Regions from separate parts of the Homo sapiens genome. Here all the other regions are reported to be linked to region 1. The links are microRNA targets in miRTarBase. Many come from high-throughput screens and were not tested one by one. Region 1 holds a microRNA gene; each other region holds the end of a gene's coding sequence.

Region 1 (7,124 bases):
ACCCATTCCCAGCCAAACAAATTACTATTAATTAAGGGCAGTTAATGAGAACTAGAAAGCACTTTTTGGATAAGATATTCTTTTTGCTATTATAAGATTTGTTGAGTAGTAATTTGCCCTAAGCAGATTACCCTCAATAAGTTCCCATCTCTCATTCTTCACAGGAAGTTCTTCTCATTACCCAACTAACATTGTGCTACCTTTCAAGCAGATGCAACTATATCTTTCATATCCTAGACAATCTTAGAATTGTCATTTGATCCCTGCCTTTATCTACATATCTGAAAAAGTGGCTTTTTCACAGGCCTTAAAAAGACTTGGATTTTTGGCCAGGCGCAGTGGCTCATGCCTGTAATCCCAGCACTTTGGGAGGCCGAGGCAGGTGAATCACCTGAGGGTCAGGAGTTCGAGACTATCCTGGCCAACATGGTGAAACCCTGTCTCTATTAAAAATACAAAAATTGGCCGGACACGGTGGCTCACGCCTGTAATCCCAGCACTTTGGGAGGCTGAGGCGGGCAGATCACGAGGTCAGATCGAGACCAGCCTGGCTAACATGGTGAAACCTCGTCTCTACTAAAAATACAAAAAATTAGCCGGGCATGGTGGCGGGTACCTGTAGTCCCAGCTACTCGGGAGGCTGAGGCAGGAGAATGGCATGAACCCGGGAGGTGGAGCTTGCAGTGAGCAAAGATCACGCCACTGCACTCCAGCCTGGGCAACAGAGCGAAACTCTTGTCTCAAAAAAAAAAAAAAAAAAAAAAGTAGCTTGGCGTGGTGGTACACGCCTGTAGTCCCAGCTGCTCGGGAGGCTGAGGCAGGAGAATCGCTTGAACTCAGGAGGTGGAGGTTGCAGTGAGCTGAGATCATGCCATTGCACACCAGCCTGGGCGACAAGAGTGAGACTCTGTCTCAAAAAAAAAAAAAAAAAAAAAAAAAGACTTGGATTTTTCTCTCACTTTTAATTTGAGGGATTCTATTCTTCCAGTTAGGAGATGCTTGCCTCCCTTGTATGGTGGAATCTTTCTACTAAACCTCACATTCTTTTGCAGATTCTTCCCGGCAAGCACTGGCAGCTCCACTTTTGAACCTTCCCCCAAAGAAAAAGTAGGTTCACATTTGTGGGAATCATCTGAGTTTTTAAAAAGTGCTAAGTGTGCCAGATTGACACCCTGGCTTTGTGTTCCAGGAATGCTGATTATTATGAGAAGATCTCTGATCCCCTAGATCTTATCACCATAGAGAAGCAGATCCTCACTGGTTACTATAAGACAGTGGAAGCTTTTGATGCTGACATGCTCAAAGTCTTTCGGAATGCTGAGGTATTTTTCACTGACTTCAAACAGATTTCACAAGTTTGTTCTGAAAAGAATTAGTCTAGAAGTTTAAGATTTTTACCCTCCTCTATCAGCCATATTTCTGGTTGGAAAAGCCAGTCATTTTTGAGTATCCTTGGGGTATGTGTTACAGTATACTAAATATTATAGAAGGCTATCTATGAAGACATTGATAGGACTAGAATGGAAGGTTAAATCATTCCCCCCCAAAAAAATAATTTTTGTAAAAAACTAATTTAGTATTAAACCTTTATGACTGCGTTATATAGATATTTTAATACATTTAACTAATATCTGTAGTTTCTTTCCTCAAGAAAATAAGTACATGTGAAATATACAGAAATATGCATAGGTAAATGTTTATATGTGTGTGTGTGTGTGTGTGTGTGTGTGTGTGTGTATATATATATATTTTTTTTTTTTTTTTAAATGAGACAGAATCTTGCTCTGTCACCCAGGCTGGAGCGCAATAGCGTGATCTCAGCTCACTGCAACCTCCACCTCCCGGGTTCAAGCGATTCTCCTGCCTCAGCCTCCTGAGTAGCTGGGATTATAGGCGCCTGCCACCATGCCTGGCTAATTTTGTATTTTTAGTAGAGACAGGGTTTCACCATGTTGGCCAGGCTGGTCTTGAACTCCTGACCTCAGGTGATCTGCCTGCCTTGGCCTCCCAGAGTGTTGGGATTACAGGCGTGAGCCACGGCTCCTGGCCAGTAATATATCTTGAGGATGGAATTGAGGAGTATCACAGTGATAGATTATGGAATAGCTGAAGCTCATTGGAGAGAAAGTGGCCTTGAACTGATTTAAAGGACAGGATGGACTATTGTATGGTGCATAGAAGAGAGGAAATTATTCAGTAATTTTGACATGCCTTGGAGAGGTGTTTGGAAGACAAAAGATCCTACTAGATAAAGGAATAATAGAAGTTGAAAGACAAAATGAGAAAGAAAAATAGACAAGCGGGAGAAGAGTTAGAGCAATCTTAAATTGTAACATTCTTCCTACTGAAACCCAGCTTCCACATAGATTCAACACCTGTAGATCTGTCACAGATATCCACAAGACAAAGGTGTATGTTGAACTTCTACAGTACATTATGCTTGTGATATCAATTCATATTTCATGATCTCTGTGTATTTGATCTGGGGACAAGAAGGCCCGTGACAGGAATTGAATGACAGATCAGTTGAGCAAATGGAAAAATAACATGCAGATTCTAACTTGAATTCATTTTAGTTCAGTTTAAGTTGTTACCAACTATCTGGCCATATATTTGATACTATTGAAAATCTGTTAACCAAAATGGGAGGGTAAAGAAAGTCATGCTACCTTGCTACCTCTTTAGGTAAATTGTTAAGCCACATTGAGAGAACCAAACATGATTTCTTTATTTGCTTTCTTCAGAAGTACTATGGGCGTAAATCCCCAGTTGGGAGAGATGTTTGTCGTCTACGAAAGGCCTATTACAATGCCCGGCATGAGGCATCAGCCCAGATTGATGAGATTGTGGGAGAGACAGCAAGTGAGGCAGACAGCAGTGAGACCTCAGTCTCTGAAAAGGAGAATGGGCATGAGAAGGACGACGATGTTATTCGCTGTATCTGTGGCCTCTACAAGGATGAAGGTCTCATGATCCAGTGTGACAAGTGCATGGTGAGGGTCAGGAAATGAAGCAGAAGCTTGGTCCTGATGAACACGGTGACCATATTCAAAGAAGAAGCCCATGCCTCTTTTGGATTGGCTTGAAAGACTGTTTATGAACTGTAACTTAGCCTTGGTTTCTGTTAGGTTTCTGTGTTTACTATATTGCCTTTCTCCTTTTATCTTTCTTTCACTTTATCCTTCCCTTCTTTTTCTTTCCTTCTCTCCTCTCTTCTTGTTTTTTTGTTTTGTTTTGTTTATAAGATAGGATCTTGCTCTGTCATCCACACTGGAGTGTGGTGGCACGATCTCAGCTCTCTGCAACCTCTGCCTCCCAGGCTCAAGCAATCCTCCCACCTCAGCCTCTCGAGTAGCTGGGATTATAGGCATGTGCCACGTGCCACCATGCCCGGCTAATTTTTTGTACTTTTTGTAGAGATGGGGTGTCACCATGTTGCCCAGGCTGGTCTTGAACTCCTGAGCTCAAGTGATCTGCCCACCTCGGCCTCCCAGAGCGTTGGGATTACAGGCATGAGCCACCACGCCTGGCTCTTTCCTTCTTTCTGCCCACTTTCCACTGTACACTTCTCACATAATCTGGATCAAGGAAAATGACAGTATTTCATATAGTGCTTTGCCTTTTGAATCATTAGTGATAATACACTCTATTAATTGAATCCTCTGATAGAGTGAAATATGTTAATACATGTAGGGCTCCTGATGAAGAAGTCAAAGCCTGGATTTGAGCCTTAGTGTCCCCACTAATATATGTGAATGCATAACTTTATGTGTAAAGTGGCTGTAAGTAACGCACAGGATTGTTGGGAGGCTAAAGTTAGACAGGAGTAAATAAAACATTTTGTAGCTGTATTCTGAAAGCAGAATAGCTGTAGCATTTACTTAAATTACTTAGTAATAGTTCAGTAGTCTATTTGTTTTCCTATTCTCTGTCCATCTCCCCATTTTATTTGCCCAGATCTATAGATTATGAGTCAATCGGTATACTTTTGCTTAGAACAGTCATTATTTTGTTTTCCTCCTATTTTACCATTTATCTCTAATTTATCATTCACCCAGTTATCCCTTAGTTCCTCTTTTACTTTACCCTGACCTATTGCTAATTTTTTATTCTGGGCTCCCAGGACACTCTCAATAAGTCATAGCCTCCATGTTCCCCAAACTGTATGTTTTTCTACAGGTATGGCAGCACTGTGATTGTATGGGAGTGAACTCAGATGTGGAGCACTACCTTTGTGAGCAGTGTGACCCAAGGCCTGTGGACAGGGTAAGCTGAACCTCTGATAAAACTCTGATCTATAAGTAGGAGAGGTAGCACATGGTATCTCACCTGTCCTGCTCCTGCTTTGCAGAATTTCCTTTAATAGGTTGTTCAGCCTCTCTGGGCCTTGGTTTCTTAAACTTTACATTAAGGGTCATAATTCTGTTCTTCCCTATTTCAGGAGTATGACCAAAGGGAAAATAAAATACTTAGAAATCTGTGGAAGGAATGGCACTATATAAAACTAAGGTTTTTGGCCGGGCACGGTCGCTCATGCCTGTAATCCTAGCACACTGGGAGGCTAAGGCGGATGGATTGCCTGAGCTCAGGAGTTCGAGACCAGCCTGGGCAACACGGTGAAACCCCATCTCTACTAAAATACAAAAAAAATTAGCCGGGCATGGAGGCGTGCACCTGAAGTCTCAGGTACTTGGGTGGCTGAGGCAAGAGAACTGCTAGAACCCGGGAGGCAGATGTTGCAGTAAGCCAAGATCATGCCAGTGCACTCCAGCCTGGGCGACAGAGCAAGACCCCATCTCTTAGAAAAAAAAAAAAAAAAAGGCCGGGTGCAGTGGATCATGAGGTCAGGAGTTTGAGACCAGCCTGGCCAAGATGGTGAAACCCTGTCTCTACTAAAAATTCAAAACTTAGCCAGGCACAGTGGCAGGTGCCTGTAATCCCAGCTACTCAGGAGTCTGAGGCAGGCAAATCACTTGAACCCAGGAGGCAGAGGTTGCAGTGAGCCAAGATCGCATCACTGCATTCTAGCCTGGGCAACAGAGCAAGACACTGTCTCAAAAAAAAAAAAAAAAAAAAAGCTGGGCATGGTGGCTCACACCTATAATCCCAGCACTTTGGGAGGCCGAGGCGGGCAGATCACAAGGTCAAGAGATAAAGACCATCCTCGGCCGGGCGCAGTGGCTCACGGCTGCAATCCCAGCATTTTGAGAGGCTAAGGCGGGTGGATCATGGGGTTAGGAGTTCAAGACCAGCCTGGCCAATATGGTGAAACCCCATCTCTACTAAAAACTGCAAAAAAAATTAGCCGGGTGCAGTGGCAGGCGCCTGTAATCCCATCTACTTGGGAGTCTGAGGCAGGGGAATCACTTGAACCTGGGCGGCAGAGGTTGCAATGAGCCAAGATCACGCCACTGCACTCTAGCCCGGGTGACGGAGTGAGACTCAGTCTCCAAAAAAAAAAAAAAAAAAAAAAAGACCATCCTGGCTAACATGGTGAAACCCCGTCTCTACTAAAAATACAAAAATTAGCTGGGCGTGGTGTTGCGTGCCTGTAGTCCCAGCTACTCGGGAGGCTAAGGCAGGAGAATTCACTTGAATCTGGAGGCGGAAGTTGCAGTGGGTCGAGATCGCACCACTGCACCCCAGCCTGCCAACAGAGCGAGACTCCATTTCAAAAAAAAACAAAACTGAGGTTTTTATAAACACTATCAGATGTCCATGAAAGGAATAGCTTACAAAATCCAGAACTTGGTACCCTTAACGTCATTTATGTTAGACAGTGGTTTAAGTGAAAAGAGCACTGGACTCAGAATCAGCAAAGGTTAGTGTTAGGCTCACTTCATAGGAGAGAGGGTAAGTGGCTTGCCTAAGTCATTAAGTGGGTTCTGTGCTTGGCTCTGCTATCTTTATATGTGTGATTTTGGGCAAGTCATTTTTAAAAAAAGAAGAGATTTAGGCAGTATTTCTTAACAATGTTGCTGTTGTCATGTTTAGGTGAATAGTTCTTGTTGTGAGGGATGCATTTCAGAATGTTTGGCTTCCTTGGACCCTGGGCATTAAATACCAGTAGCATACCCCAATCATTGTAATAATTAGTCTCCCTTCACACATTTTCATATGGCCCCTAGATTACGTAGAGCAACTACACAATTAGTGCTTCATAAAACATAGATTGAGATACTTAGCCTATCAGTTTTGTCCTCTACCTTCACTTTTCCAGGTTTAACAGCTCTAGTTGCTTTCATCTTTTTTGTATATCTGTGGTATATTGAAATGACTAAACAGTAAGTTTTGATTGAGAATTCTAGGTTGAGAAATAAGTAGGCTGAATGTAGTAATTCCAGCCCTTATACATTGGCTTTCTGCTCCTATCAGGAGGTTCCCATGATCCCTCGGCCCCACTATGCCCAACCTGGCTGTGTCTACTTCATCTGTTTGCTCCGAGATGACTTGCTGCTTCGTCAGGGTATGTATACAGGAGCTAATCCTACTTGTCAGAGGTGACCTTTCTGAATAGTAGGAAGTCTCTGCTGTCTCCATCATAGTCATTGTCTCCATACGGCCTCGAATAGCAATAGAATATAAGTTTTTATATCTGTAGTCCTTGTGCTTACATGCATCACCTCTCCACCAAATAATACTAATTTGAAATGATAGACATGTTACAAAGCTAATTTTAAGACTGGGAAAAACATATAGGAAGCTCAAGAAATGGAATGCCTCCCTTATATTATTGTCATAGTCTAGAATTGATTATCATCACTTAACACTGCTGCTTTTAGCTCTCTGTATTTATACTGTTTCAGATTATGAGTTCTATGTAGACCCTGAGTCAGATAAACAGATGCCTAACAGAATTCATACAAGAATTGTTTTATGTTTCTTCTGTGTTCTGGGTCTTCCTAGGTGACTGTGTGTATCTGATGAGGGATAGTCGGCGCACCCCTGATGGCCACCCGGTCCGTCAGTCCTATCGACTGTTATCTCACATTAACCGAGATAAACTTGACATCTTTCGCATTGAGAAGCTTTGGAAGAATGAAAAGTACGTGCTGAGGTCCTGTCCTTTTCTTCCAGCCGTGCTGTACCAGTGGAGCTGAATGTTCACTAGGATCTTGCTAATC
Region 2 (7,124 bases), not on the chromosome of region 1:
GTAAGAGTTGGTGTTTTTGAATATCAAGTTTCTCTCCGTTAAAGTCTTTAATAAATAAAGCCTATTGACTGGATAACTTTGTTTTTTCAGTCCCACTGGCATTGTGAACAGTACACATAATTTCAGTGGACGTTTTTCTAAAAAACATTGTTTTTTGTTTGGACTTCGTGCTTTTTATAGTTTCAGGTACAGTGAACCCTAGGATTCTATTTTAATGGGACGATTTGTAACAGTTTTTAAGCATTAGAAAATAAAGGTTTTTAAAAGATCTGGTTGTAGGAGTGTTCGGGAACTGGGGAGCAGTGCAGTTTGTTAGATCCTTCCAACTACTCTTACTCAGTCCCTGAGAGTCCTAGTCTATTATTCCTGAGAATTTGTTATATTAGGATTAGCAAAAACAAAGCTGATTGGTAATATAACTAACATAAATTGCTTGGTAACTTTATTTTTTTAAGATTATGGTTTAGCGTGTGTCACATTTTATGGAGTTAATTCTACAGTGTAAAGTTTGAGCTTGATTTTAGCATTTCAGTGACTTGCTAATAAAATAAATAATTTACCACCATTGTCCTATACCATTTCTTTTGACAACAGTGAGCTACTGTTATAATTAAGGCAGTAATTACTATTGAGAAATTCACTGAAGCAGGTAGAAGAAGATAGATTGACTTGTTGTTTTCCTTTAACAGAAGGATCAAAACCCAGCAGAGTGCAAGCAGCAGTGAAGCAGGATGTATGTGGCCTTGAGGATAACCTGCACTGTAATAGCCTAAACACAACTCTTATTTACTTACAGCCTTATGTTTTTGTATTTTCTTGGTAGACTAGGTAATTTTTTTTTAAAGGACAGGAAACTGATATTTTAAAGACCAATTTGTTCTACCTAGCATTTTAACTAGTTTTTCTGCCAGCTATGTTGAATGCACAAATTCTGTCACGCATGTTCATTCATTGCTACATAATTTGGTTCTTCTGGAATATTTTTATGTAGCTCTTGGAGTACAGCTATGAAAATTAACAACTGTTAAAGGAAATACCTTTTTTTTTTTTTTGTAATTTTTTCCTTGAAGAACCAAAGTATTTTTTCAGCTGGTTGTTGAATAGGGTTAAGTCCGCTTGGATTAGCTGTGCCTTTCATTACTTTGTTACAGAAATGCAGTGACTTATACTAAGACAATTTATTGTTTAAAAAAAAAATTGGCAAGACAACTATATGGTTAAGAATTTCCAGTATGACCACACCCAATAACTGTTATTAGAGTGTTAATGGATTATTGTGTTTTAGGTGACATAGTTAACTGTAAAGTAACCTGACTCAGTATAGTTACTGGTACCACAGTGAGGTGAATAAAACGGGATTTTCAGAAGTTAGCCTGAATTTAACTGTATTTTTAAATTTAACCTCCATTAACTAAGCATCTTTTCTTTGTGGTAGGGTCTACCTTCTGCTTCCCTGGAAAGGATGAATTTACATCATTTGACAAGCCTATTTTCAAGTTATTTGTTGTTTGTTTGCTTGTTTTTGTTTTTGCAGCTAAAATAAAAATTTCAAATACAATTTTAGTTCTTACAAGATAATGTCTTAATTTTGTACCAATTCAGGTAGAAGTAGAGGCCTACCTTGAATTAAGGGTTATACTCAGTTTTTAACACATTGTTGAAGAAAAGGTACCAGCTTTGGAACGAGATGCTATACTAATAAGCAAGTGTAAAAAAAAAAAAAAAAGAGGAAGAAAATCTTAAGTGATTGATGCTGTTTTCTTTTAAAAAAAAAAAAAAAAATTCATTTTCTTTGGGTTAGAGCTAGAGAGAAGGCCCCAAGCTTCTATGGTTTCTTCTAATTCTTATTGCTTAAAGTATGAGTATGTCACTTACCCGTGCTTCTGTTTACTGTGTAATTAAAATGGGTAGTACTGTTTACCTAACTACCTCATGGATGTGTTAAGGCATATTGAGTTAAATCTCATATAATGTTTCTCAATCTTGTTAAAAGCTCAAAATTTTGGGCCTATTTGTAATGCCAGTGTGACACTAAGCATTTTGTTCACACCACGCTTTGATAACTAAACTGGAAAACAAAGGTGTTAAGTACCTCTGTTCTGGATCTGGGCAGTCAGCACTCTTTTTAGATCTTTGTGTGGCTCCTATTTTTATAGAAGTGGAGGGATGCACTATTTCACAAGGTCCAAGATTTGTTTTCAGATATTTTTGATGACTGTATTGTAAATACTACAGGGATAGCACTATAGTATTGTAGTCATGAGACTTAAAGTGGAAATAAGACTATTTTTGACAAAAGATGCCATTAAATTTCAGACTGTAGAGCCACATTTACAATACCTCAGGCTAATTACTGTTAATTTTGGGGTTGAACTTTTTTTTGACAGTGAGGGTGGATTATTGGATTGTCATTAGAGGAAGGTCTAGATTTCCTGCTCTTAATAAAATTACATTGAATTGATTTTTAGAGGTAATGAAAACTTCCTTTCTGAGAAGTTAGTGTTAAGGTCTTGGAATGTGAACACATTGTTTGTAGTGCTATCCATTCCTCTCCTGAGATTTTAACTTACTACTGGAAATCCTTAACCAATTATAATAGCTTTTTTTCTTTATTTTCAAAATGATTTCCTTTGCTTTGATTAGACACTATGTGCTTTTTTTTTTTAACCATAGTTCATCGAAATGCAGCTTTTTCTGAACTTCAAAGATAGAATCCCATTTTTAATGAACTGAAGTAGCAAAATCATCTTTTTCATTCTTTAGGAAATAGCTATTGCCAAAGTGAAGGTGTAGATAATACCTAGTCTTGTTACATAAAGGGGATGTGGTTTGCAGAAGAATTTTCTTTATAAAATTGAAGTTTTAAGGGACGTCAGTGTTTATGCCATTTTTCCAGTTCCAAAATGATTCCATTCCATTCTAGAAATTTGAAGTATGTAACCTGAAATCCTTAATAAAATTTGGATTTAATTTTATAAAATGTACTGGTGATATTTTGGGTGTTTTTTTTTAAATGAATGTATATACTTTTTTTTTGAAGAGTGGAGAGTAGTGATGTCTAGAGGGAGCTATTTTGTGCTGAGGCCACTATGTTCTGTAAATATATAATTTTAAGAGCAACCTCACAATCCCTGCTAAGTGGAGTTTATTATTTGAAGACTAAAATGGAATTCCATAGTTCCTGATAGGTTATATTCTGGGTTATTATTCTGAGTTATCTACAAACATTTTTGAGATTTGTCTTTACACTCTGATTGTAGTTTCCAGCAGCCCATGCACACTGCCAAGTAAGTCTCATTTTTTCCTGTTAGAAATGGTGAAATATCATATAATCACTTATAAAGAAAACTGATATGAAAAAATTTTAGAGTTGTTTGCTTTATGGTCACTCAAGTAGGGTAAGTGTTCCACAAATTCCACAAGTTGATAGTTTAACATGGATGTCTGAAAGCCACATATATAATTTCTTAGGATTCTTAAATTAGTAAATCTAGCTTACTGAAGCAGTATTAGCATCACTATTTTAGATTGCAAAAATACCTTAATTGTGTGGAACTGGCTTGTAGAGTGGTACTTAAGAAAAATGGGATTCTACCTCTATTTCTGTTTTAGCACACTTAATCAGGAAAGGATATATTAACTTTCATAAAAATATTTTTGTTGTGTGAATAGGTTAATGATATGGTAAGGCCCCTAAAATAACTGAATTAATTGTTTATTGTAATTGTAGGCCATTCCCATTATTAAAAATAAAGACAAAACTTGAAGTAACTGAAAATCTTATCGTGCTATGTAGAAATATTGAACTAATATTCAAATATTTGAATGCTTTGGTTTCAGGGATTGGTTTAAAATTGGAGTCCTTTTTTATGGGTTAGTCTTACAAAAATTTAAGCCTTTATATTTTTGACTTTAAATCAAAACAAATGTTATTTTAAATGTACAGAATAGATTGGTAGTGCAGAAGAGTGTAAGTTCTTCATAGGAGCTTTAGAAAAGAGAAATATGTGCTAATTCAGTTTTTTTTTAATCTGCACTGTACATATATACTTGGTAATTATGAGCTTGATTTTGTTTTTGGAAATATGTGTTCATAATTTAGGTAATTTGCTACTTAAAGCACTAAGTCTCTGATACCTGAAAAGTACATGTAAATGGTGATGGTGAAATAATACTGCAGTTAACTTAATAGATGTATACTGGTGATTTTTGTATGCTGGATTAAAACTCCAGATATTAAAATATAACCTGGATAAAAAGCCAAGTTCTTGGACTGATTGAGGATCACTTACATGACTTTACAGAAATGGAAACATCCTTGTTGGTATATGAAATTATTTTACTCAAGGATAAGTATTCATAAGAAATTTTGATTGATGTATATTTTCAAAAATACAGTATGCTTTGTATCTTGTGTTTCTTCCTTTTGACATCATATTGTCAGGTTTTCCAGTTTACAAAAATTAAGTTATTCACTAAAATCTTAGTACAGACAGTCCCTGACTTATAATGGTTTGACTTAAGACTTCAGCTTTATGAGTTTATTGGAGTATTAAACACATCTTCTACTTATGATATTTTTGACTTACAGTGGGCTTATTGAGGCCCGACCATGTCATCCTCAAGCCAAGAGTCTGAATAAAAGAAGAAATGGGGTATTTAGAAATAATAGATTACTGGCGGGAAATAAGTCAGTCTGGTTGTTTAATTTTCCTATGGGAAATTGGGCATTTTAAGTTTTGTGGATCCTAGAACAAACTGAGTTTTATTATTTTGAAACCCAGGATAAAATATTACATAAAAGCATTGCTTTTTAGTTTCTTACATGTTTTATCCATTTATTTTTATTTTTGAGATAGAGTCTTGCTCTGTTGCCCAGGCTGGAGTGCAGTGGCATGATCTCGGCTCACTACAGCTGTCATCTCCCGGGTTCAAGCGATTCTCGTGCCTCAGCATTCCAAGTAGTCGGGATTACAGGCGTGTGCCACTGAGCCCAGCTGATTTTTGTACTTTTAGTAGAGATGGGTTTTCACCATGTTGGCCAGGCTGGTCTCGACCTCCTGACCTCCAGTGATCCTCCCACCTCAGCCTCTCAAAGTGCTGGCCTCTCAAAAGTGCTGGGATTACAAGCATGAGCCACCACGCCCAGCCAGTTTCTTACATGTTTTAAACTTAAAGCCAAAAAGAAGGAACTAGGAATGTGTGATTAAACGTGAGTGCCAGAAGTCGACAGATCTCATATCCAGAGTTGAAGGTCTTATTCATAATTTTATCATTCATAATGTATTAGGCAATTGCGGCTCTGGTAAATTTCATGAGGTTGTAAAATAGTTGCTACCAGAAGGCTCAAAATTTGTATGAGCTTTTAGCTGAGATTTTGAGAATCTGTAGGAATTTGTGAAGTGAGAGGAAGAACCTCTGAACGGTGAGCAGTTCAGGTGGAGGAACAGGAGGAAATACAGGCAAAGGTCCCAGAACAGAACAATTGAGGCTACATTCAAGGAATTGAGATACCTGGAAATACAGGTAGAAATACAAGTGGCCAGTCCATAGAAAGTTTAGCTGTGGAAGTCCTCTTAATGGGTTTAAAACACTGGAACCACCTGTTACAAGAGTATTTCAAGTGAGGATGAGGATGACCATTCCATGTAGAAATTTTTTTTTTTTTTTTTTTTTCTGAGACAGGGTCTTACTTCATTTGCCCAGGTTGGAGTGTACTGCTGCAATCAGCCTCTCGAGTAGCTGGTATCACAGGCACGTGCCACCACGCCCAGCTAATTTTTACATTTGTTGAGAGGTGTTTCACCATGTTGGCCAGGCTGGTTTCGAACTCCTGGACTCAGGTAATCCACCCATCTTGGTCTCCCAAAGTGCTGGGATTACAGACGTTAGCCACTGCACCTGGCTGAAAGATAATTTTTAAAGGAAGACATGATTGATAGACCAAGTCAGCCATTTGAAGGTCAGAACATTTGAGGTAGGTGGGCCCCAGGGGCCAGTAAAGGCTTCAGGGTCATATATATGCAACTGAAAAAGTAAGTTAAATGACGTGGCAGCAGCAGTGAACAAGACGCTGTTAGCTGTTAAGATAATTTACTTAGCCAAGAACAAAAGCTTTATTTAAAAAAATTGCTGAATAAAGTTTTATCTGCAGTGAATCCCCTTAGTCAAACTCCAGATTGGTGTTTTGGGGTAACTTATCAATATTACAGCTTTCCTTCAACTCTGAAAATAGTTGAAAGAATTCCGGTATATTCTTTACTCTGATCAACATACTTTTTGGCTCAAAAAGTTTTCTAGTCTTACAGGCGTTTTCTATTTCAGCCCTGGAATGGGCCATTTCTCCAAGGATTGCTGGCTTCTTAGAATAGGGAGTATTACTTAGAAACTTAAGTCCAGTTGCTGAATATGCTCTTTACAGGGTATTTCTAGGGCCTTTCAGGTGAAAGAAAATTTGTACATGTATCATAAAAACTGAACGCACAGTGGATACTTTGAAGTTGAATCAAACAATGTTATTTTTCCTACTGCTACTGCCGTCCGTATTTGTAATTATTTTCAAATAAGTGGAATCAGTTGATCCAACTAGGAAAGTAGATGAGGTTGCTCTATAGGAATAAGAATCCATGAATAAAAATGGAGATCTAATTTTAGACTAAAACTTTTCAGCCCCTAAACAAATGTCTCTGCTACCAAATTTTAATGGATATGTGTGAGAATACAAGTAGTGTCTTTGGGTAGTGTCTTTAAACACAGGCTTTAGAGTCTGTCTACCACCTGTTGGTTCAGCATCAGTCTTTTCATCTGTATTGCGAAAGATCGTGGTGAACATTAATAAGGAAACAAAAGTACTTAGAGCCTATGAGCACTTCCTAAACATAAGAAAACCTAAAATTTGTGATTGGGATTACTTTTTAAATTGGTTTTAGAACTTTATTTCTGAACTAGTTGGGGTTTTCTTGGTTCAAAGGCAAAATTCCTCCTAGGTGTAAGGGATGCATTACTCAGTGTACATAAGAACACTGAGACTAAGACTGGATAATAAAATTAAACATATGCCTCGTTTTGAAGATTTTATGTGTAAAAAACAAAAAAAAAATTGACCTTAACCTAAAGTGAGCTAG
Region 3 (7,124 bases), not on the chromosome of region 1:
CATGTGAAACTTCCAGATATAATGTATGAATAGACATTTTTCTGTATGAACAGATACAATTTCTCCCTCTTTTCATCCTTTTTTCCCCCTTCTTTGAAATTCCAGTCTGATTTTATCACTAGGGACGTGGTGTAATCTCTCTCTTTCCTCTTCTCCTTCCTTCTTTTCCTCTTCCCCCTCTTCTCCCCTCTTCTCCCTCCCCCTTTCCTTCTTCTGCAACTGCAGTCAGATGTTATCGTCGGGCATGATGTAATATCTCTGCCACTTAGAATTGGGTTCATAGTCTCCTGGACAGCTCTTTAACCAATTTCCAAAGAAATAAAAACTGGACTGTCAAGTTATTCTTTCAGCTGTAGGCTGCAATCTGGATCTCTCTGCATTTTAACCTCTTCCCAATCTGGCTGTTTTTTTAGGTAATGGGACTCCTGACCAACCACGGTGGGGTACCTCATCAGCCCCAGACTGATTACGCGCTCTCCCCTCTCACCGGGGGTCTGGAACCTACCACCACGGTGTCGGCCAGCTGCAGTCAGAGACTAGACCATATGAAGAGCTTGGACAGTCTGCCAACATCTCAGTCCTACTGTCCACCCACCTATAGCACCACAGGCTACAGTATGGACCCTGTCACAGGCTACCAATATGGGCAGTATGGACAAAGTAAGCCTTGGACTTTTTAGGGGGCAATTTCTCCTGGAAGGGAGATAAACTCAACTCTTCCTTAAGAAAGGTGAATTAGAGGCAAGATTAAGCCACACATGCCGGTATCAATTTTTTTTTTTTTTTGCAAAGCCAGCTGACTGTTCCAGCAGGGGCTTCCTTGTGTAATTATTTTCTTAACTGATGTCAACAACATCTTGCGGTTATTAATTGTTGAGACGTGAAACCTGATTGCCACTAGGTAAAACACAAGGGTTGGCCAAAATGAAATAATCCCTGACATTAGAAACACATGTTCTTAATGAGGTCAGCTCCAGGATCATATGGGGGATAATCCCAGGGACACAAAGTTGTGTCAAACTTGTCTCAGGAATAAAAATATTAGTCTCAAGCCTTTGATAGCACGGTATTAAATATGACATTGTCAGCCTGTAGCTGATCTTGCCCCTGACTGTGAATTGTCCCAGCATGACCTAAAAAGCTGCGTGTGTTTCCTTACAGGTGCCTTTCATTATCTCAAGCCAGATATCGCGTAAGTGAACTGTCCACTTGGAGCTAAAACTGGCCCTGTTTCTGGTCTTCGCAGCCTAGATATGAAGAATCTGCTCTGAAAACAAAAAAAAATTACCCTTTTGTTGGGGGGGGTGGGGCAGTGGTCCCAATAGGAGACAAAGGAGAGTGATTGATTTTCTTCCTCCAATAGTTGGTTTCAAATCCTTTTGAACACGTTCGACAAAAGCAGTGGAGAAGAGGAAGACCTGGAGCAATAAAAGACAAATGCAACATTTTAAGGCAATGGTTTCACATGGTTACATATCAAAACATCCCAATTCTTTAGTGCTGATCATCGAGGAGCTAGAACATTCCATTTGCTTGTGTGCGTGCGTGCGTGTGTGTGTGTGTGTGTGTATTGAGATTTACCCAGACTGGTTTGGGCAAGCAGACTGTTCTAAAATATAATAGAATACCCTAAAGTATAACATGTCGATGTTCGATGCTGATACTTCTACAACTTTAAAACTGCTCATTTCATGAAGCAAGAATGGAGGAATCCTTGACTCTTACACACTGGAAATTGAAATAAAGATAAATGCAACCATTTTTAGGAAGCTAGACTAGCTGTAAAGGACCTCCTAAATAAATTATTTGTTACTGTATCCTCATTTGTAATCTAGTTGTCAATAAATGGCCCGGACATGTCTTGCTAACAGGATATGGGCTACCAGGAAGAAGGACTTGTTTCCCTTTCCTGTGTGGGGAGAGGTGTGTGACGTTTTTCCAGTTCACATTTATTTGGTAGCCCACCTGGGTTGGAGGAAGGGCACGGTGGAGAGAAAGTGACATGCATTCACATATCTGCTTATCAGTGTGCAATACTGTGTACCTCATGGATGCTTTGGCAATGCCCAAGGCGATATAAGCAAAATCAGAAGTATATTTTTGCAGGTGCTTTTATTTTCACAGCCCATAATTCATAGTGATAGAGTGCAGTGATGTTTGCCATTTGCTGGACAACCAACACCCGGGTTGCTCCTTTGATTAGAGACCAGATCAGATAATTATGCTTTTAAACTGATTACGTTTACATTCTTCTCTTTTCTATGAAAGGCAGGGCAAGAACAGAAGTGTTCACATGGCTCTCATGTACTTTTAAATTATACAATGATATCCAATATTAAAAGATTATAGGAACTGAGGTTTACATACGTTTGTGTGGTGACATTTTAGAATGTCAATAAATTTGCTTTTTGAGATGTTGAGAGGAACAAGAAGGTGGAAGGCAGTGTTATTTATTTCTTTCTATTCTTGGAACCACGAATGAGGTAGGCACAAATACATTCCTTTTAGAGTTAAGAACTATGACGTAGCGAGTTAGTGAGACTAGACATAGTACCGAATTTAGTTCATGCATTGGTCTTAGAGGGTGATGGAACAAGAGAAGTACTATCTTTGTGTTGCAGCCTCAACCAACAACAATGTGTTGTAAAAATGTCTTTCATGTAAAAAGTGCAGTAAATATTTACTATTTATAATGAATAAACAGTTATGAAAACTTGCCCACTACTGCTTTTTTGGGGGAACTGGTGAATGTAGTATAAATGAAAACTTGGCAATGGGGAGCCCAATGTACATGAACTTCACTTCTGGTGGACCCTTTCTATGAGAGTATTCTGTCGACAAATAAGGTTACACAACCCACAGTTGTATTCTCTTGAAGAAGCTTGGTTGAACACACTTTTAAGGATTGAAGTTTATGTTTTTATCAGTGTAGCATCTAGAAAAACCCTTCAGTTTAGCTTCCTTCATCTTTCTTTGGTTCTCTCAGAGTTATCCAGTCCCTTTACTGTCACTTAGAGATATGTTTTCCCTGGAGTACCCGGTTCCATCTTCATCTCTAAGTCATCTCCACGGAAATTTTTATTTAAAACTCTCATATTTTATTTATTTTATTTTAGCAGCCTACTTTATTCTTCATGAAAGGTATTACTGCGTACTTCATTCATTCTTCCTTTCTTCCTTCTCCTTCCCTCCCTCTCCTGATCCTTTCTCCTCTCCCTCCCTCCTTCCCTTCTTCCTGAATGTATTTAATGAGAGTCCAAATGTGCCAGGCATGGTGATTGGCACTTGTGTTATAGCGGTGCTTGTAGCCTAGTAGAGAAGGCAGAGAAGTAAATGCATAGTTTCAATAAAGTGTGAGGACTGTTATTTTAGAAGGAATAATCATAATACCTTTTGAAGCTCTTACTTGTATTAACTTATTTATTACTCTCCACATGTCACATGCAGCAAGTGATGTCACTACCATTCCTTTTGTACAGATGAGAAAACTGAGGCTCAAGGAACTTACATGAATCACTCAGTGGCAGAGCTAGGATTTGAACCTAGTACAATCTCAGTGCCCAAGGTGTTTAAACTCATGCTCTTCTGCTTCCTCAAGACTGGTGTGAGAGAACCTTACAGTCAGGAAGATCTAAAAGGGTGCTGTCCAATTCAGAAGCTACTAGCCATGTATCCCTATTTAAATTTAAAGAAACAAAAGTACATAAAATGACAAAATTAGTTCCTAAGTTGCACTAGCCACATTTCAAGTGTGCGATAGTCACACGAGGCCAGAAGCTGCCATACTGGGGATTGTTGCTGTGGGACATTCCACATCACAGGAAAGTTGACTGGTCAGCTGATTGAATGCACGTGAGTTCATAGTTTAACAATATCAAAAACTTGAAATGCAGTGGGTAACATTTTCCAAAGTTGTAAAATGCTTTATTTTTTTTTTTTTAGCTCACACACTTATCTTTCTGATCAAATGTGTTGCTCTTCTTCTGACAATTTTTCCAAAAATAATTTAAGAGGAAAGGAAGTTAATCTTTACAGCACATTTACTTTTATTGTCTTGTTTAATCCTCACAATGTCCCGTAAGGTGGGTGTTATTCACCCAAACTTATAGATGAATGGACTGAGGCCAAAGCTGTTAAGCAGTTGGGCCAACATTACATATAGCCAGAAATGGCAAAAGAAGGCTTTGACTTCTATGCAACCATGTGGCAGAACCTGTTTGTTTTACCCACTTAATTATATCAGTCTATCCTCATGCCAAACTCAAGTTGCAAACAGGCATTTAAAAAAATCATTCACTCCCAATACATGAGAGGAATGCTGCCAGGATTCAGATTACACAAGAGAAACTCATTTTACATGATCAGTTTTCCTTTCTGTCTCCTGATATCAGAACTTGTCATGAATGGCTTATATCTTATTTTGATATACTTCTTTGTGTCCTTTTCTTATTTCTGCATGTCTTTGAAATCTACTTCTCTGCTGTTACTTCTCATGTTGAAAGTCCCTGTAGATCTTTTTTCTCCAGACTCTTAAAATATCTAATCAATTTCTGGGGAAATGTGACCTGATTTCTTTCAGTCAGAGTTCCTACCCTCATTTGCTGGGACAAGCAGCCCTAAGAACTTTGACCCTTTGACATTCAACAGAACTTGAACCTGATTGTATGTGGGGGGTTCCCCCTTGCCCATGTAGTTATTTGATTTCATTTGAAAAATTAAAAGTAAGAGCTGAAAATTAAAACTCAAATTATTAAATTGTGGATGTACCATTGTCAGCTGCTGAGCCATTCCTTGGCAGCAATTTTTCTAGGAATAGATATCATACATTTCACATCTGTGACAGAAACAAGCATATTGTTTTATGCTTTTGATTTAGCCCAGTCTGGAAATGTGTTTTCATACACACTTGGATGCTTGGGAAACATCCTAGGTTAGAAGGGATCTTCATTAGTGCTGGCATATAGAACCAGAGTAAGAGACAAGATCACTGGCTCATGGCTATAAGTTTAGGAAGTCTTAAATGGAGAAGGAGATGGATTCATTAATGCCTTTTATCTGAATATGGCATGGAAGAATCTATCTGAAAACTACATAATTAAGAGTTAAAATTAATACACAGGACCAGAACCAAAGTATCTATAAAAAGGAAATCTATTTACCTGAGCCTCAACCATTCTGAGTGAATGAGTCTTGGTGTTAAGTCATTCATGGATAAGGAAAGCCGGTGTCAAACATGGTGGGCACAGTAAGTGACGAGTGGCAGTATTTGTGCAAAAAGTTCCACATGGCAAGCCTCAGCCTCAGAAAAGTGCTCATGGAGCTGGAAGTCAGTGGTAGATGACGTATGAGAGAAAAGGAAGAAAACAGAGCTGTGTATAGGACTTCTCACCAGATGGCTGTGATATGAGTTAGTTCTCTTTATTCCATAGATCCCCCTTTGGAATTGCTGACCATGGTGTCCCAAGTGCCTAGCACCATGTCTGATCCATTACAGGTACTCAATACATGCCTGTTGAATAAATGAATAAATAAATAGATGAAAAGTGATTTTCTTATACTGTCCCTACATGATCTTCTGAGCAGGGAGACATTTGCATGACCAAAGGTGCACAGATTGCCACCAGGTTAGATTGGTATGAAGTCTTAGGGAAGGAGTGAGAGGCAGCTGGCCTAACAAGTCACTCAAAAGCCATATTTCTGATGATTTTGACTGTAGCAGAGGATACAAGGTGGTGATGTGTGGGATTCACCACTGGGAGGATTAGAACAGAAAAGGGAAATAGCCAGTTGGTTTATTGCTTAGAAAAGTGACTATTAGCCCTGGCTGTTTAGTAATCTGCACATTAAAAACAAAGAGAGAGAGAGAGAGAGAGACCATTGAGACTACTGAACTCAGAATCCACAAAGACAAATGCCAGGAAAGTTGGCAAAGCAGGAGCTCCGGGAGAAGCCTCTGGCTGCATTGCAACCGTGGCCACACCTGACTAGGTAAGTTTTCTGGGGCTTGAAGCAGTAGTCAGGGCTGTTTACCACAGCACACCTGAGATAGGAAATATGGACACAGCTTAGCCTTATCTTCCAACAAACCTCACTACCCCCTCTCAAGCCAGACGGTGAGACATAGAAAGGCAGGAGTTCTGGCCATGGTGCATGAGGAAGAGGGGTGGAGTTAGGAGGAAGAGTCATGCCAAGTTGGTTGCTGTTGTGTTATGATCCCATCGTTTTCCCAGCTGGAGGCCTACAAAGCCCCACCATGCAAAAATGAGGAATGCTTGAGCTCTTCCCCAAGAGGCGTGGCGACATCTTTTTCCCCAGGCTCATGTGCTTCTGTGGCGTTTGGGAGAGTGTAAAGCATGGAGCTGAAAACCTAACTGCCTTTCCATTCTGCTTGTCTGGCATCCCCCACTCCATGCCGCTGAACATACATAGAGCTCCCGACTCTCAAAAATAATCCCCACAAACCCTGACTCTTTTCACTGCTTGCAGAGTTGAGGGAAATGGGCAGTGATTGTTATTTCCTAATTAATTGCTTAATGCATTGGATACTAACCAAGCTCCTATTGTGCAAGTAGGAGCAGTGGAACTCTAACGGTGAATAAAACACAGTTCCTGCTGTTGAAAGACCCCAGGGCAGAGGAATGAGCTGGATAACTCAGGAAAGAGTTGGAACACAAATAACATGTAAGCAAAAGTTAGTATAAGAACCAACGTGTCTGACGTAGGAGCACTTTTCAGAGGAAGTGGGCCTGGGGCTGAATCTCTAAGGATAAGTGGAAATTTATTGGGTAGATGCAGTGGCAAAGGGCATGCCAATTCACTTTTACATGATGCCAGCTCTTAGGTTATCGGATTAAAGGAGCCAGGAGATCAGACAGTGGCTGGCCCCCACTGATTCTCTAATCAGAAGGGTCCGCAGGCAGAGCCTTCTGAGAAATCCTGGTTGATAGGGTCCAGAAGGTCTGAGATGAGGCGCAGTGGGGCAATTTTTTCTTTCCTAAAAACAGATTGAGAGAGTCTCAATCTCAAGGGCCAGTTAAGAAACTCATGGGTGAGCCTGTAATCCCAGCACTTTGGGAGGCTGAGGCAGGCAGATCACTTGAGGTCAGGAAATCAAGACCAGCCTG
Region 4 (7,124 bases), not on the chromosome of region 1:
TGAAACCAGAGAATTCTCCTTAACTAGGGAGAAAATGAGCTATAAAAGTAAGTTTGCCTCAAAAATGTCCTTCAATTTTATAAAAAATGAAGATTGTTACATATTAAGACTTTGAAATGGAATTTCTTAAACATAGCCAATTACACTAAAAATCATAACTATTTTCAGAGAATGAATGTTAAAAATAAATGGTGGAGAAGTAAAATGGAAAGCAGGATTAAAAGATTTCTAATTAAGGGTCTGTCACTTCACAGGACAACTAGCAAGGCCATTATAATCTCTATTTTTAAAAAGACATCAAGAAATTCTTGATTCTATACTGTCTCTCTAGCAGGACTGACACACAGGTGAGTCAAAAACCATAACCATCACTGAAATACCAAATCTCTATGTAACAGGAGAAACCGATATATTGGTATGGTATTCTCTGTTGGGTTATCTGCAGTTCTAAAGAACATTCTTGCCACTATTCTAAAATGTGTACAGTGCAACACCATGTTTCACGGCAAGACAATAACTGAAAAGCTAAGCCAGGCAATCCAGTGAAGTTGAATGTCCATAGTACACAGCTGTCTTTAGCCTATTCATCAAGGCTGGTATTACCGGAAAACTGCCATGTTCACCAGAAGAGCTGTCTCTTCCTATGCTCATTACATTTTAGTTTTACAAAGACTACTAATTCATCAGCCTGCACCCCATGATTTACTACTGCGTAGTTACATGATGGTCAAAAAAGGCAGAGAGACGGTAAGAATGACATAATAAAGATACATTCTGTGGAATAAAAAACATTTTTAAGTCAGCCTAATTGTATCTTTAAAAAGCTGTTTCTGCCAAAACCAGGTGTGAATCTTATACAAATCAATTTCCCAACAGGCCAGTAAAGTACTTTAAGTACACAAGTAAAAATAAAATTTAGTGCCAGCGTTAGTGTCATATTTGGTTCTCATTTACATTTTAGTCATACTCAACACTGATTAGGCACACAGCATTAAGTTTTAAAAAATAATGAATTGTTTACAAGATTATTATTACTAGACCTATAACTACTATACTCTCCTCTTTGGAGATTTCAGTCATCGCAGTAAGATTAAGAGCAAGTTGTTGGTCAAATGATACCTGAACACAGAATAAAAAAAAGAGAGAAAAAAAAAGTAAAGAAACTGATTAACCAGCACACTTTTAATTAGCCTAGGGATAATACGCAATCACGGGGAGAGACTGGAAGCATGAAATTTTGGAAAAGGACTTCAGAGATAATCTAATTTGTTGTTCTAGAAAAGGCTGAGAACTATTAATCTAGTCCAATTATCTCATTTTTCAGACGAGAAACCAGAGATTAAGAAGAAAGAGAAGTGTGAAGGTAACAACTAGCAGAGCTGTTACCCAAAGGGCTCTCACACCTCCAGTGCCCTTTCTGCATATAACATATACTATACTATGCATTGGATTTGTACCTGGGTAGAGAAATTAAATCTTTCCTTCATTTTTCGGTTGCTAGTGGCTCCCTCTGGTATTTTCCCTAAGTGTGCAAGTAAGATTCCTGCGAGCTAGGAATCTTTACTCCGGGGGATCAATAGTGAGATCCCCGCAAGCTAGGAATCTTTACTCCAGGGATCAATAATCCTTTCCTACTTGGGTACTGGTTATGCCTTAGTGGCAGAACTTCATGCCCCAAATCTAGAAGTTACAAAAGGTGGAGCTAAAGAAAAAGGTGAGTCAAAAGAAAACGTGAGCTACAGTGCTTGCCACTTCAGTCTTGTTTAAGACTTTGCTAACTAAAACATATTCTTCCCTTTTTCTAAGTTTGAACTAATAGGTAAACATTTACATGCTCTCCAATTATTTCATGTGTAGTGTGTCTCTCTAACTGGATAAAACAGGCAGGAATCATATCTTATTTATTATTTTTTGAGACAGAGTCTCGCTCCATTGCCCAGGATGGAGTGCAGTGGTGTGATCTCGGCTCACTGCAACCTCCGCCTCCCAGGTTCAAGAGATTCTTGTGCCTCAGCCTCCCCATTAGCTGGGATTACAGACAGCCACCATGCCTGGCTAATTTTTGTATTTTTCAGTAGAGATGGGGTTTCACCATGTTGGCCAGGCTGATCTCGAACTCCCAACCTCAGGTGATCCACCCACCTCGGCCTCCCAAAATATTGGGATTACAGGCATGAGCCACCACACCTGGCCAGGAATTAGATCTCAGATTTCAAAATACTTCCAACTTCTATAAAGAACTCAATAGCTAATTGTTGACTTGTAAGTCAAGGAAGTAGAATTATATACAAGATTTAAAAACATACACACAGAGGGTTCAATAATCTGGTATGGATGGGACACAGAAAACAGAATTGTAGATCGGGCGCAGTGGCTCATGCCTGTAATCCCAGCACTTTAGGAGGCCGAGGTGGGCGGAACACGAGATCAAGAGATCGAGACCATCCTGGCCAACATGGTGAAACCCTGTCTCTACTAAAAATGCAAAAATTAGCCGGGCGTGGTGGCGCTCACCTATTAAAAAAGGTAATTGTATCTTTTCTGAAAAATGTTTAAAAAAAGAAAAAATTGTTTTTTTACCCTTTTCATTTATTCTTGGCAAATAATGCCACGTGGCAATTTTACTTTCACATCTTCACCAGTGCATCATTTTAAAAAAGCAATAATCAGCCTCTCAAAATAATGGCATAAATAAAAATGTATAGGCATAGTGCAAATCCCACAACTTTAACCCAACTACTTCCTCTATATTTATGGGAACAAAACTAAGTGACACTTTACAAAGCCAAACAATGAGAAGAGAATCATCTGGGTAGCTTGATTCTCTTGCTGAAGGAGACCACAGCATGGACTCTGGATTCCAATTCTGATTTGCCACTCACTAGCTATGAGTCCTGAATAAGTTCTCTATACCTGTTTTCTTAACATGGGAAGAAAGTATACATTTTGTACGATTCTTCGGGAGATTGAAGAGGCAAATGTACACAAAAGTATCTGGTGCATGCCAATTAGTATTAAGTTTCCTGTTCTTTTCTCATTTGGCACTGTTGTTTTCTCTTCTCCAGTTCCTTCCGATACCAATTTCAAAAAAGTATTCCTCTCACTTTTTTCCCACTAGTTTTCTTCTTCTTCTTCTTTTTTTTTTTTAAATTTGAGATGGAGTGTCGCTTTGTCGCCCAGGCTGGAGTGTAATGGTGCGATCTTGGCTCACTGCAACCTCTGCCTCCCAGGTTCAAGCCATTCCCCTGCCTCAGCCTCTGAGTAGCTGGGATTACAGGTGCACGCCACCACACCCAGGTAATTTTTGTATTTTTAGTAGAGACGGGGTTTCACCATGTTGCTCAGGCTGGCCTCGATCTCCTGACCTTAGGTGATCTGCCCACCTCCGCCTCCCAAAGTGTTGGGATTACAGGCATGAGCCACCGCGCCCGGCCTTCCTGGTAGTTTCCATTCCATCTCCCTGTATTTTTCTCTTATCACTCTCGAAGTCTATCTTTCTTGTTCTTTTCCTCCCTAGCTTTTTTTTTTTAAACACTCCTTTCAAGCTGTGTCCAACACCCACAAGGAATGACTATTTTTAACTAATCTTACTGACCTCATTTAATCTATTCAATAAAACCTCTGCCCTAAGGAGCAAAGAAACTTGCAGAGGAAGTAAGGCAAACTGGAAGAAGCATACTGTCAGCGGATTAAATTCTTGAGCAAGGCAATACTCCTTATGGATTCTTCCCATGTACAATCCGTAACTCTTCCCATGGGCCTTTATATCAACCCTAAGATAATTACACTCCTGCCTCAAAATAAAATAAAATAAAACCCACCACATCTTGTATTGTAGACATCCCAGCTGCATGTTAAGCTGAGTGAAAGTACCATGCTGTCTTTTAAATCACTTTATATCTACTTAATCATCCCACAGTAACCCGAGTTGAAGAAGTTACTTTGGTTTCTCATAAATGAATATGCACGTGCTGAACATATCGGAAAGAACCACACCCTCTCACTGATGAACACGTTGGCAGTTCTCCCAACTGTTTTATCAAGAGAAGCTAGAAGGTAAAGAAAAGGAAACAGAGCCCTATAGGAAAAATGATTGACTTCACACGTTTGAGCGATTTGGGCTTCAGCTATGACTTTGCTGGAGTACAGATGGGTGCCATCAGAGCACAAAGCTGAGCAAACCTCTCTTCTTACCCTGTGCCCTCCCTGAATTTTTGGATTTCTGAGCTTGTCTACTACCAACAAATGTTTTACCCTCCAGTGCACCTTTGACAGTATACAGCTCTATTTTTCAAACGGCAAGTATGTTATCCAAGTTCAGAGATGCAACTGAGGAATTAACATGAAAACCATCTTTCACTCAATAAATCAGAAGCTGCTAGTTAAGTAAGCCTCAAGAACCTAAGAAAAAACACCAAAGTGTAAGTATTACTCAGTCACCAATCTAAAGACAGAACTTTGACTCAAGGTAGAAATGAAACCGTAATTATATAAATATATTTATAAATATTTATACAATTATATACTTATACATAAGCACTTACACAGACTTAGAAAAAAATTTAAGAACATTAATTCAAAAGGACTCACTGAAGAATAAACAGATTTTTCCATGATTTCCTTGAGGAGATATAAAACTCATTCTTTAGGGAGAGTTCCTCAAAATTCAACCATTAGAAACCATATCCTATAACTGTGTACTAGCAACACATGGCATCTTTTTTTCTTCTTTTCCCAAATCCCCTAATTGCCAAGAGAGCAATCTTAAAGTAGATGAAAACCTAAAGGTCTCTACGCAACATCTGAGGAACATACGCTCCTCAGATAAAAGAATCAATCTAAATCCTCAACTGACAAAAAGGTCCATTTAATATTTTTCATTTTACAAGTTAAAAGTTCTAGTTTTGCCACCAGAATCACGACTACCCCCCCTTCAGAGGACTCCATTTAAGCTCAAAATACGAAATGAGCATAGGGTGAAGTTGATGTGTAAATGGTATTCTACAGATTCAAGATGGCCTCTTCTAAAAACACTGAAGAAAGCTTTCACCAACTCTAATTTGATTTTGGGTTTTGTTGGCAGAAAAAGCCCAAGACATCTGAAAATTACTAGTAACCTCCGCCATCCTCCTTACTAAATGTTGTCTTCTGAATGGAGTTGAAAGGTCTTCCCCTTAGAGAGGCTTTCCGTTTTGATACCTTTTGAAAGAAAACAGCATGCGGACTCATGTTCAATTCAGTCACCAGAGCCTTTTAGAGACTATTCCAACCAGGGGCAAAAAATGAACCATTATTTCTAACCAAAAGAACATGGTTAGCAACTCTCAGCTGAATGGTTTTCTTTTTCCCCAGGGACATACCTAAGTATGCCTGAAACAACACAGGACAATCAATAACCATAGTGGTTACAATTCCAAGCCATTGTACTACATGATTATTGACCAGCTGCCTTCCTACAGATCACTGCAGACTCAGACAATGGAGGGCTCCAAAGGAACTAATATGCTGTGCTGGCAAAAATAGCAAGCACCTTCCTATCCCAGTCACCACGATAGGTTCACTTCATGTCCATTCTTGGACTAGCAGGATCAATACAGAGTAATAAGGAAAACTGTCTCAGGTTAGGACAATGAAAGTCACCCCATGCTATATGCTCCATATTTAACACTCATTCTGCCAATAACACATGTCATGGAAATAGTCCTTATAGCTGGGAACATGAAAATCCTTTGAAAAAGGTTTTTAAGTATGATGAGCAATCATTACAAGGGATGCTTTTTCCACGTAAACAAAAGCCTGGATATTTTGTTAAGCGACATTTCCACATGAAGAACACAACAAAACCAAACCCATGTTAGAGAATTTCTTCTCCCTGCTAAACACGGGGACTTACAAAAAAGGGAGGGTTGTTCTTACTCTGAATCTAGCCATTCCTTTGCCCGAAGAGTCTGGGGAGTAACGTTAACATTTGATCCCAAAAAAGTGCCGTGCAAGAGACCACTTACTGGAACACACAATTCCTGCTGCTAGTACTAGGAGAGGTCTTATCCTTACACTTCAGTTTGGTCACCAGATTAGGTAAGAAAGAAAAGTGTGGGGGGAGGGGGAGGCAGAAGGGTACGGAGTGGGGAGCGAGAAAACAGAAGAGGAGAAAGAAACAAAGGGGGAGAAAGAGACTGATTATAGGAGAGATCAAGAAATAAGAGAAGGAAGGTGACTTGCTTGCCCAACTTTGGCTCTGTGGTCCTATGAGCCAAAATGCATACTTAGTGACATGTATCTCACAGGAAAAGGGAAAAAAGGGGTAAGCTGAGAGAGGTCAAGCCATGGTGTTAATTTCTTTCCTGTACAAAGACAGTCTCTTGAGGACAAAGGCCTGCCTCTTGCAATGTAATATCATAGTCCAGATGAGATAATTTCCTTCGAGGAAAGTTGGTGAGAAGTTCAAAACGTTCATTTGGGTATCCTTTAGACTGCACGTGCTTCACCAAAGCCTATAAAAACAAGAGAAAGACAAAGCCATTAGACGGAAAAAGAGGAAAGAGCATATTAGTGAATTAAATAGAAAACATTCTCTTTTTAATCATATTAGATCAGCTATTAAATGTAAGTTCTTCTTTCATATAACCAAAGCTTGCCCTTGGGGAAGGGCCAATATAAACCTTTGGACGGGGAGATAAATCTGACCCCAATTACTTACAGCCATTAAGTGATACTGAAATACACAGTTATTATTTGGCTCCCCAATAAATATACCCAGTCACTATTCATAAAATTAAATTATTGTTCTCATTTTAAAACATTTTATCCGTTTTCCTTTCTCCCTTTTATCAAGGAAGATATGTCCTTCATTCTGCCTACACCCAATCTTGCCACCTGTGCACTGAATCTCTTCTTGCCTTCTCAGAAACTGGACCATTCCCATCTTTTGCAGGTTTCTTCAACATCTCCCTCTCTGCTTCCCATCAAACTTCAACACTGCTTGCATTTCAGTAACACAGTCTTCAAGAATCAGCCTAATTATCTCCAGCCACAGCAAACGGCCAGCAATGCCTGACGCAAGGGATTCATTCACAGGCTAAGCTAAGCTAAGCTAGTCAGACTCAAGATTCTGTTTCCAGCAG

Evidence for each region. The annotated mature microRNA hsa-miR-555 reads AGGGUAAGCUGAACCUCUGAU and lies in region 1 at 4,264-4,284, shown strand. An mRNA with a match to its seed (bases 2 to 7 or 8) in the 3' UTR can be bound and repressed. Matches are read on the target gene's strand: a 7mer-m8 pairs with bases 2 to 8, a 7mer-A1 pairs with bases 2 to 7 and ends in A, and an 8mer does both.
Region 2: miRTarBase lists NAP1L1 as a target of hsa-miR-555. Seed matches in the 3' UTR shown: 7mer-m8 at 1,871-1,877.
Region 3: the mRNA of PAX3 is a reported target of hsa-miR-555. Seed matches in the 3' UTR shown: 7mer-A1 at 1,578-1,584.
Region 4: the mRNA of UBXN7 is a reported target of hsa-miR-555. Seed matches in the 3' UTR shown: 7mer-m8 at 6,303-6,309.

Annotation. Positions count from the first base shown.
Region 1 is chr1:155,343,525-155,350,648 of GRCh38, reverse strand. It overlaps MIR555 (microRNA 555), which reads left to right and starts at 4,204; the gene lies at 4,204-4,299. ASH1L (ASH1 like histone lysine methyltransferase) reads left to right here. Exons shown (of 28, transcript NM_018489.3): 18 at 1,053-1,107; 19 at 1,190-1,322; 20 at 2,745-2,993; 21 at 4,180-4,266; 22 at 6,376-6,466; 23 at 6,907-7,045.
Region 2 is chr12:76,042,030-76,049,153 of GRCh38, reverse strand. NAP1L1 (nucleosome assembly protein 1 like 1) reads left to right here. Exons shown (of 15, transcript NM_004537.7): 15 at 690-7,124. The coding sequence ends at 725. Among named protein-coding and RNA genes, the nearest start is that of PHLDA1-DT, 14 kb to the right of the region's middle.
Region 3 is chr2:222,195,480-222,202,603 of GRCh38, reverse strand. PAX3 (paired box 3) reads left to right here. Exons shown (of 9, transcript NM_181458.4): 8 at 414-660; 9 at 1,162-2,717. The coding sequence ends at 1,196. Among named protein-coding and RNA genes, the nearest start is that of CCDC140, 99 kb to the left of the region's middle.
Region 4 is chr3:196,350,353-196,357,476 of GRCh38, forward strand. It overlaps UBXN7 (UBX domain protein 7), which reads right to left. Exons shown (of 11, transcript NM_015562.2): 11 at 1-6,494. The coding sequence ends at 6,333. Among named protein-coding and RNA genes, the nearest start is that of TM4SF19-DYNLT2B, 15 kb to the left of the region's middle.